Regions from separate parts of the Homo sapiens genome. Here region 2 is linked to region 1. Evidence: fine-mapped expression QTL. A gene starts in region 1. The other region holds a variant in brackets. All regions are shown on one strand. Distances are between the middles of the regions.

Region 1 (5,384 bases):
TTCACGACGAACTGCAGGTCCTGCAGCAGGGAGGGCTGGGCAACCAGAGCTTCTCAAGCTGACTCATGCTCAGCTCCATTACTCTAGGATTCAGTTTCTCCAGTTATAAAAATTATGATAGAGATGGAAAGCAAATTAATTGAATGAAGGATGGTTTTCAAGGGCCCCCACTGCACTTGCACAAGCAACTTTCAAGAACTGCAAGCCATATATCTATAGTTTTATACTCTTTTTCTTAAAGAAAACCCCTAAATTATAAATACACAAGCTTCTGTAAAACCTGCTCTATCCCCAGAATGGCATCCAGCTAGTTCAGGGGCACTAAGGGTTCACATTTTGAGAGAAAGGCTAGAAACCATGCCTGCTCTTCTCTGCTTTTGCCAACTCCTTTCTTTTTCTTTTTTTTCTTTTTCTTTTTTTTTTTTTTTTTTGGCCAACACTAAAGAGTTGGAAATGTTGCTATCAACAGCAAACTAACACCAGATATTTATTAACATGATTCTATTGGAAAAGCCACAGAGCTTTGGGTTACAGTGATGTCTATTATTGATGAAGAGATGAGGAGCTTCCACTGTGAAAAATAAAACTAAGCTCATATAAAATTCAACTTGGCTAATTTGACTTGAAGGTTGCAAAGCTGGAGGAAGCCAGGAAGAGGGAAAAAAAGAACTAGGAAAGGCTATGCAGTCGAGAAAGTTTGGGAGACTGGTCTATAGGGCAGGAGGAAGTCATCCCCTTATCACTGGGCCCCTTTGCTCTATAGAGAAGACACTGCCCAGTACCTGTTGATGTTCTGTGTTGCAACTGAGAGCACAATACAGAAAAGACCCCTGTCTGTGCCGCAAGACTGCATGTTGTGGTATGAAGGGCTTCAATCATTCACCATTCATTCAACAGATGTTTTCGTTAGTGTTGCTAGATGCTGGAGACATTATGTCGAGCAAAACAGATGTGGCCCTGGTGTTCCAGTTTGGAGAAGACACAGCCAAGAAAAGAGGCCAGTGCAATTCAATGTGATGTGTGCTGCAATAGGGCAGATACAGCGTATTAGGGGAGCACAAAGAGAGGCATCTGATCCAGCTCTGGGGAGTCAGGAAAGACTTCTCCAGGAAAGCGGGGATCCATCTGAGACCTGCAAAATGAGCAGGCATTCACCAGAAGAAACGAGAAGCGTGTTTAAGGTAGAACAAAGAGGGAAGCAGTCAATGTTTCTGAAGCATCATGGACCAGGTGTGTGGTGGAGTCATGGGAGAAGGATAGAGTGGGCATTATTTAAGCAGATGCTGGCTCATATCGGCTTTGAAAACCTTAGGAAGGAGTGTAGACTTTATCTCAAAGGTAATAACTTTGTGATATCACCCAGATGTTGTGGGGGAGTGGTCTAGAGGGAAGCAAGGCTGGGGATAAAGAGGCTAGTTAGGAGGCTGTGACAATGGAGGCAAAATGTAATGGGGCCCTGGATGGAAGTTGCAAATGTGGATGGAGAGATGAATAAGGATTCAAAAAATATTTAAGAGGCACAATAGACATGCTTTGATAGTTGGTTAGAAATGCAGTGTAATGTGTCCAAGGAATCTAGGATGACCTCAGACACATTTGACTTGAGCAGTTGGGCAGCCAGATGGTAGAGCCATTTGGAAAGACAGTGACTCCAGAAGGAACAGGTTTAGCACTTGTGAACTGAATTGGCCATTAGGTTAAAAGGAGGCTTCAGAATTCACAGAAGGTCAAGTTGAAAGGCCCAAGAAAAACTGACTTATTAAAGTTACAGAGGTCAGGTCAGAGGAGGAAAAGACAGGAGGTTGAGAAGTTCAATCGAAAAGGCGTTCAGATGAGAAAAGGAGGCTACAAAACCATATGTACAATAAAATACACATGCACATGATAGAAACAAGGAAAAGATGCTAGAGAAATCCATATGAACACATTAGCAGGAATTATTGCCTCATAGTAAGATCACTGGTGATTTGTAATTCCTTCTCTTTGCTTAGCTGTATTTGCAAAACTAAAGGTTGCACAATAAATGTGTGTTCTTTTTGTAATAAAAACAAAAGGTGTTTTTGAAAAGTGGTTATGCAGGTGAGGGAAGAATACGGAAGAGCTTTTCTTTTTTTTTTTTTTTTCAGGCATAGTCTCGCTCTTTTGCCCAGGCTGGGGTGCAGTGGCACCATCTCGGCTCACTGCAACCTCTACCTCCTGGGTTCAAGTGATTCTCCTGCCTCAGCCTCCAGAGTAGCTGGGATTAGAGGCAGGCACCACCATGCAGGGTTAATTTTTGTATTTTTGGTAGAGATGGGGTTGCCATGTTGGTCAGGCTGGTCACTGGTCTTGAACTCCTGACCTCAGGTGGTCTGCCCACTCAGCCTCCCAAAGTGCTGGGACTACAGGCATGAGCCACCCCACCTGGTCTAATACTGAAGGGCTTTTAACTTAAAGTGAAAAACTTAATTGGAAAGGTTTATAAAAGTAAAGCTCGTGGACAACTAACCTGATGTACTGTCTCACAAACTTGGTTGCATATTGAAATCACCTGCACAGTTTCAAAAATACTGTTCCTGGATCCCACGTCCACAGCTTCTGATTTAATTGACAGGAGGTGTGGTCCGAGCCTGGAGATTTTTGTAATGCTCCCCAGGTGATTCCAATGTTGGCAAAGATGGAAAACCACTAATGCAGTTAATGAGAAGGAAGAGGGATAACTTTTTAGACTAGCATTCTGAGTTATTTAAAGGAGTGAGAATCTTGGGGGAGAAGGTTCTCAGTGAGGCCATAAAGCGGGGTCAAAGGTTGGCAGTGAGATGGCACCCCAGGGTCAGGCATGAGGTCCATCCCACAATATGCTCTTAAATGACAACCTAGTGAAGTGAGCTGAGCTCAACCTTAGAAGGACGCTCCAAGAAACTCTGCAAAAAATGGGGACATTTTGCGCATAAGGAAATCTGAGGTCCTGCCAGCTTTGCCGTGGTCAAGAGCACGTAGCAGCTGGTTCCATATTTAAAGGCAAGCGGCTCTCACATCCTAAGGTATTACCCAGCAAAAGGCAGCCTCAGGAGGCAGCCCACTGAAGACCTTCAAGTCCACGAAGACAATGTATGGATTGTTCACTAAAACTGAGGAATGATTTTCAAATAATCTGTCGCCAGAGGGCCAATCCAGGCTTCAGGCTCCAGTGTGTATGGAGGAGCTGCCACTGCAGAGACGCTGGCTTAGGGGGCTGGGGGATGCCTCCTTTGAATTCTGGGCCCACCACTGACAACACTTCTCTTCTTGGGTGAGTTATTTCATTTCACTGACCTCGCTCTCTTTATTTGTGAAAAAGAAGATAGTACTACCTGTTACACAGGTTTCTCAGGATTAAATGAGCTCAGGTTGAGCTCATTGTGAAAGCAGCTATTCGGTTTTTTAAAATGTGATTGCCATTGTTTGAAATAGCAAAAGAGGATATATCACTGTTAAAGTCTGTCTGGACGGCAGTCTTGCTGTATCATTTCCACCTCTTGCGTGACATTTTTTCCTTTCTTATTTAATTTTCTAAATTCTAAAGTACGGCGGCTAGAGCAGACAAACTGTTCTTTTCTTAGTAGATTAATGGCATTGAGTACATAGCCCTTAAAAACATAAAGTTTAAAAGCAAAAGCAATGGCCGGGCGTGGTGGCTCACGCCTGTAATCCCAGCACTTTGGGAGGCCAAGGCTGGCGGATCACTTGAGGTCAGGAGTTCGAGACCAGCCTGGCCAACATGGTGACCCTCCCCCCGCCCCGCCCCGCCCCACCCCACCCCATCTCTATTAAAAATACAAAAATTAGCTGGGCGTGGTGGCATGTGCCTGTAATTCCAGCTACTCAGGAGGCTGAGGCAGAAGAATTGCTTGAATCCAGCAGGCGGAGGTTACAGTGAGCCGAGATCACTCCACTGCACTCCAGCCTGGGTGATAAAGCGAGACTCTGTCTCAAGGAAAGGAAAAAAAAAAAGCAAAAGCAACAAACTCAAAATTTTGTTTTTTAAGTAAAATATCTTGATGTTAGTAATCACCAGAGTGAAGACAATGGTTACTGAAATTTCAACTCTAAGAGAAAAGGCAAAAGGCAATTATAGCAAAGTATGGGCAACTTCCATATATATTTCATTAAATCTGAGATGCCTTTTATTATAAGATATGTTCATTTTCTATATAGTTAAGGAAAAAAATAGTTGCAAATTAAACTATGACACAATGCTTTCTTTCCTGATACAATGTTTTCCATATTGAAAGAGCTCTTTCATATTTATTTAAACATCTCTTGTTACGTGTAGCACTCGACGTATCTAAAAAGGAAAACACAAGTGAAATGAATTGCTTAAGGTGTTCCACAAAACTTCACATTCTCACTCTTCTGAACCACTTTGCAGTCATCAATGCCACACATTTTTTCCAAACCACACAATTAACATCCTCTGGGCTTTCATGTGAACTGGCGATACACTCTCTTATGGTCTCCCGTATTTTTTCAGCCGCTGACATCTGTTTTTACAAGCTTTTTTGCCTAGTGTGTGATAGATGATCCTTTTGTGTATATCGTGGTAACAAACCTAACTCAGCTTTATCTACTTGTGGATATCTTCCCTTCATAAGCCCTATAAAGCTATGCTTCTCAAACTTCCCTGTTCATACAAATCACCTGGGGATCTTGCTAAACAGTAGATATACAACAGGTCTGGGCTAGAGCCTGAGATCCGGCAGTTCTCACAAGCTCCCAGCTGAGGCCAATGCTGCCGGCCCCAGCACTACAGTTTGAGCAGCAAAGCTATAAAGCAATTGATCCTATTGGTTGTTGCTTCTTTGCAAGAAAATATGGAAGTGTGATTATTCCTCCAACAAATGGTTTCACTAATATCAAATTTATGTCTTGCTGCTCTGTTTTCATGCTCTTCTGTATATGCAGTAATTTTTCATTTCAATGCCAAATTGTCACATAATCTTTTTGAAAGCTCTTAAATGGCAGTGAAACTCAACATGTGTAGTGCCAGCACAGCACATAATTCACTGAAGTGTGATGGCGGGGAGTGGAGCTAGGACCAAGCTAGTTGTAGCATACCACCGATTGCAAGCTGTACTCTGATATCAGAGATGCTAAAAAGTGGAGAAGGTGCAGTTTTGGATCAAAGAAATATGGAGAATCTGTTGCAAACCTCTGTACTTTTAGCTTCCACTTTTTTTTTTCCTTTTTAAGAAAATGCTGAAATCAGCATTAGGAATTATGAGAGACAACACTAATAACCCCAGTGTGTTTTGCTGTGTCTGTTTTTAACCTTTTGGCTTCACCTTTGTAACTGGAACACAAGGATGAAAGTTCCTTGGTGTGTGAGTGTTGGTGATATGTGCCTTTACAACTGACTCCACAGC
Region 2 (5,384 bases), 230 kb after region 1:
GCCTCCCAAGTAGCTGGGATTACAGGTGTGTGCCACCACGCCCAGCTAATTTTTGTAGTTTTAGTAGATATGGGGTTTTGCCATGTTGGCCAGCTGGTCTTGAGCTCCTGACCTCAGGTGATCCGCTCGCCTTGGTCTCCCAAAGTGCTGAGATTTCAGGTGTGAGCCACCGCGCTCAGCCCCTGACGTGAGTTTCGGCAGAGCTCTGCATGCTCCCTCCTGCCCAGCTCTCTCCAGGGTTCCTCCTTCACCATACTCAGGCTCACAGAGGCCTTCCCCTACCACTCTGTGGTCTGGCACAACAGGAATTGAGCTGCACTTTGAAGAATGAGGAATGGTGACAGAAAAGTAGAGCAGATGCAGTGGTAGAGATCAATCACTAAAGAAATCTCGGGCAAAATCTAGGTGTAAATTTGGAAGGGGTCCCTCTGCATCTGCTTGTCCCCAAATGGGGGGCACAGTGGGCATTCTTGCTGAAAGCAGTTCCCTTTCAACATAGCTGCCTTAGAATAGGTCTATTCTCATGCCTTCCATCAGCTGCCTGGGCAGGGGAAGTGGACTCACCCCACCCCACCAGCCCAATCTGGCCCAGCCCTCCTGGAACTCCAGCCCTGCTCTTCTTATCATTTCAAAGCCCACAAGCAAGTGTCAAACAACTCCACTACCACTTGAATCACCAAATCATTTCTTCCTTTGACACACAGGCACTTTGCAAGTGCCTCATCCTTAAGAAGACATTCATTAATGTGTTCTGAAATTGCCTTTTTTCGATGACTCACTCCTCTAGTCCAACCAATCTAGTTCAAGTCTTAGCAACACGCAATGCTCATTTTCACCCACTTGTATTTGCTCTTTAAAATGCTCCCACATCTTTTTAGATTTAAATTTAATAAGACCAAGATCCCTGTCTTCTATGTTTGTATTTTCTATGATGTCTAACACATGTTCTGAGGCATTTAATAAAATGCCTGCTGACAGAACTGATTCTACTATTTGAGGAGTTGAAAATAGAAACTGGCACTATACTGCTACATTTACAGAAAAATGTTTAATATATTAGATCAGTCATATTCAGACACAAAGAACCACTGAACAGTCTGCTTCCTTAATGAAGTCTTTTGTTTATTAGTTGGCAGTAAAAATGTCAGAAAGAATCAGATTTCATTTTCAATCTTCCTACTTGGGTAACTTCTTTCCTTTTAGGTGAGGGTTTTGAATTTCTTAAAGGAAGAATTTTGGGAAATAACCACAAGTCAAGGAAGCTACATTCCATTAGCAGGAAATAACACAACCTATGTTACAATGTGGTCACACTGGTATTTCTTTTTTTTTTTTTTTGAGATGGAGTTTTGCTCTTGTTGCCCAGGCTGGAGTGCAGTGGTGTGATCTCGGCTCACCGCAACCTCCACGTCCTGGGTTCAAGCGATTCTCCTCCCTCAGCCTCCCGAGTAGCTGGGATTACAGGCATGTGCCACCACGCCTGGCTAATTTTGTATTTTTAGTAGAGACAGGGTTTCTCCATGTTGGTCAGGCTGGTCTCAAACTCCCGACCTCAGGTGATCCACTCGCCTCAGCCTCCCAAAGTGCTGGGATTACAGGCGTGAGCCACCGCGCCCGGCCCACACTAGTATTTCTATATCATCACCTCCAGACCTAGTGTACACAAAGGAGTACTTTTAATGTGACCCTATAAATCAGAGCTATAATTCCACCAATAATCTAGAAAGCTGTTAACAAAGTCTTGATTGTCTTATGTCTCAAAAAGTCTTGATTGTCTTATGTCTCAATATACTGAAACATCACCTGTTCAGATTAAATGAGCAAGAAAATGAAAGACTGGATTGTTTCATTTCCTCACAGACTGTTTTTATTGTTGCCAATAAAAATATAGATATCTGTTCTGATTTGATGAAAAGATCAAAGCAGCATTTGATAATTCTAAAAGTGAGTGGTAAAATACCTCAAAGATTTTAACTGTGTTTATATCTCTTAAAATATTGTTACTCTTAAAATTTTGCTTGATACTTCATTTATTCAGAGTGCAAAGATAATTTCAGTATACAAAATTGAACTGATTACAAATTCATAATCTATCAGAATCTAAGTCATATGTGATATAATCAAATCTCAAAAAATTAGTATTCTCAGTTTAAAATATTGTGATGTTCCCAAGATGCATTTTTGTGTCATTTTAATTTTTGGTGGGGGTGGGAACTTGCTTTTCATTAATCTGAAGACCATAAACTATAATTTGAAATTCACTGATAGGTAGATATTTCTCTTAGATACTAAAGAATATCTAATGACCTCCCAAAGATGGTACATTCACCAATAAAGTATGGCATTACAGAGTATAAATAATGATTAATAAATATTTAGAAACCCAGCAGTGCAAAGAAAGAGAACACATGTTAGATGACTTTCCACAGTCACCCCAGAACCTCTCTACAATTAAGGTAATGGTAGAAATATAAAATTTTGATGTCCAGCCTACTAGGATTATAAAGCCTGTGTCAACAGTACCATCTGTTTACGCAGAAGAATGTATGCTCACAATTCATAAGAATTACAGCAACATATGTAATTTTGAACATCAGAGGTATCATGATAAATAAGACATTTAATCTAACGTTTAGCAAAGATGGAGCAAGCTGGCACTTTGATGGAGTAGAAAAAGAAAGTGAAAAGGCAATCTGCTCATTTTACAGTACAATTCTCTACTCTTTCTGAGTTACTACTAGTACTCTAGGAACAGCTGGGTTTCTTGGTATCAATTTTCTACCTATATGTCAATTATAAACTATTACAAAACTCATGCTAGAATTGTCCATGGGAGTTAGGAACTGCTTAGGACACGCAGTGGTTTCTAACTTTCCTTCACTGGCATCTTCTTCTTCTTTTTTTTTTTTTTTTTTTTTTGAGACGGAGTTTTGCTCTTGTTGCCCAGGCTGGAGTGCAATGGCGTGATCTTGGCTCACTGCATCCTCTGCCCCTCCAGGTTCAAGCAATTCTCCTGCCTCAGCCTCCCAAGTAACTGGGATTACAGGTGCCTGCCACCATGCCCAGCTAATTTTTTGTATTTTTTTTTTTTAATAGAGAC[G/A]GGGTTTCACCATGTTGGCCAGGCTGGTCTTGAACTCCTGACCTCAGGTGATCCGCCCATCTTGGCCTCCCAAAGTGCTGAGATTACAGGCGTGAGCCACTGTGCCTGGCCTTGTTTCTATTTTCAATGTCCTGGGTAGAATGTCTAAGGGATGAAATGGTCTTTGAGTGGGGGAAACTGAACATACCTTATTAAAGGAGAAAGGCAGCAGCCACCCTGTGGCAGAGCAGAGGTAAAGGAAGTCCACTCCTGGCAATGAATCCAGGAATATCTCAATTATGGAAAGCTCACCACGGAGAGCAACAGGGTCACATTACTCTACATTCAGCCAGCAGAAAAAATTTAGAGAGCTTTTCCTACACAGCAATCCACACTCAAGGAAATTCTGTGGACCCGGAGACCCCCCCACACTACCTTCTTATCAGACTGCTCAATTCAATGTATTAACTTGGTTCTTTTGAAATGTGTGAGAGAAAAAAAATAAGTTTGAGCAAGACATCAATGTTAACTTCAGTAATGTGATGGTCACAAAAGAACTGAAATTCTTTTTTAAATTTAAAAAAACAAACCAAGAAGTCAAGAGTCCAAGCCTCTGTCAAGACCTGTAATCCATTCTCCCTCCAAAAGCAGAGTTTTTCAAATGGGGAAAGGTAAGCAAGGGACTGAACTGGCAAAGTGCCAGATGAAACACATTAGAAAGAGTTAGCTAGAACAGTCTCAGGTTGCCATGACCGAGTCCTGGTTTCACGGTACTCTGTTGATCTTCACCACTGTGATATCTAAACCATCTGGCTTTGAATTTACCTTCGACTAACAGCTGCCATGGGCAGCTACTGAAATTACATCACAACAAAGCTACCCCATTAGCGGCATAAACTCATCTTCATACCTTCACAGTGGTGAGTCACATAGTGAAAAACACCCAGAAACAATTCTCTCTAGAGTTGAATGCATGTACCTTGATTCAGTATGTAATACCAGTCATTTATGGATCAATATATCTGCACCACTGCAAAATATATGGAGCAAGAGAGAGGTATAGAACATAAAAACATCGAAGTAATGGAAATGTCATCTTGGCCTTCAAAGCAAAAGAAAGAACAAAATAGTCAGTGGCTGGATGGAACAGGCTTTATGCTGACCAGGAGAATCACACGACTATTCTCCCAACCTTTCTTTCTATAATTCCATACTGTTATTTAGGAGAGACAAATAGTAGCAGCAACCTAATAGGAACACATCCTCTAAAGTGAGTGCAACCATGAATAACCAGAAACTAAATATGATCCTTTTAGACCCATCCATCCTAAAAGTGATATTGCCTCTATAGGAACTTCTTGGCAAAATGTCGTATGAACACTCTAGTCTGAGGGAATCGGGTAAAAGTTCCATTCCAACAATCCGTTCATATTCTCTTCAGAATTTTAGAATATTCCAAATTATTTCAGGATTTTAGAATATTCCAATTCATAAAGTTTTCCTAAAAGGTTAAAAGTAGGCATAAGTATAAATATCAAAGAGATTTATTGTGTCAATTCTTGATCAGATTTCAAAAATAACAGAACAGTATTTAAAGAGAGTAGAAACTATCACCAAAGAAGCCCTTGTACCAAATACACAATCAGTCAAGAAGCACTTCTGTCAGGAAGCCCTGAGGACTTTGACACATATCTAAACATTTTTGTGGCCAAATTATATGGTAGCAACATATACTTAAGGACTAATGAAAACAGCAGCTTCAAATAACTTTAGAAATGAGAAGGACCTTGGTGATCGTCTAACTGAGCTGTCTGCCAAATTCTTAATTTTGTTAATACCTTTACTTAAATACCCTTGGGAGGGAGCACTGATACAAAAAATTATAAAAACAGGAGCTGCTCCTCTTAGGCCTTCTTCATCTCCTCAACCACAACCTGCACTGAGGCTTCCTAAAGCTTGGAGGAAGGCCACTTAACATCAAGGACTGCACTGCAGAGCAAGGTGACTGGAGGCTCAAAGCCAGGGCATAACTTGTCCACAGTCTTGCTTCTGGGATCTTTCAATTGCCATGTTCAAGCAAAGCAACACAATTCTGAAGGAAACGCAGTCTGATCATCTAATTTGAAAGTACTTTCTTCATATTTACACAACCATTCTTTTTAAAATTCACATTTCACAGTATAGCTTGGAGGGAAAAAGTTCAGGCTTATTATTTTACAAATCTTTTACTTAAGGTTTCAAAACAGGGCTGTTGAAGCTCACAGTTGAGGGATGCGCCTCCTGTGTACTTATGGTCTTCTTCACC

Direction of the effects. Alleles are on the strand shown, and positions count from the first base shown. SD is a standard deviation of normalised expression in the study named.
In carriers of allele G in region 2, the expression in minor salivary gland of the gene that starts at base 2,997 in region 1 tends to be lower than with A alone (large effect, 1.2 SD a copy in GTEx).

The links. PIP is the estimated chance that this variant, and not a neighbour inherited with it, causes the effect.
Region 2: its variant is fine-mapped to the expression of PKP4-AS1 in minor salivary gland (GTEx, PIP above 0.99).

Annotation. Positions count from the first base shown.
Region 1 is chr2:158,732,615-158,737,998 of GRCh38, reverse strand. PKP4-AS1 (PKP4 antisense RNA 1) reads left to right here and starts at 2,997. Exons shown (of 4, transcript NR_135242.1): 1 at 2,997-3,271.
Region 2 is chr2:158,505,902-158,511,285 of GRCh38, reverse strand. The region is part of intron 1 of PKP4 (plakophilin 4); the gene reads right to left. Among named protein-coding and RNA genes, the nearest start is that of PKP4, 52 kb to the right of the region's middle. The variant G/A (reference allele first, on the strand shown) is at 3,101.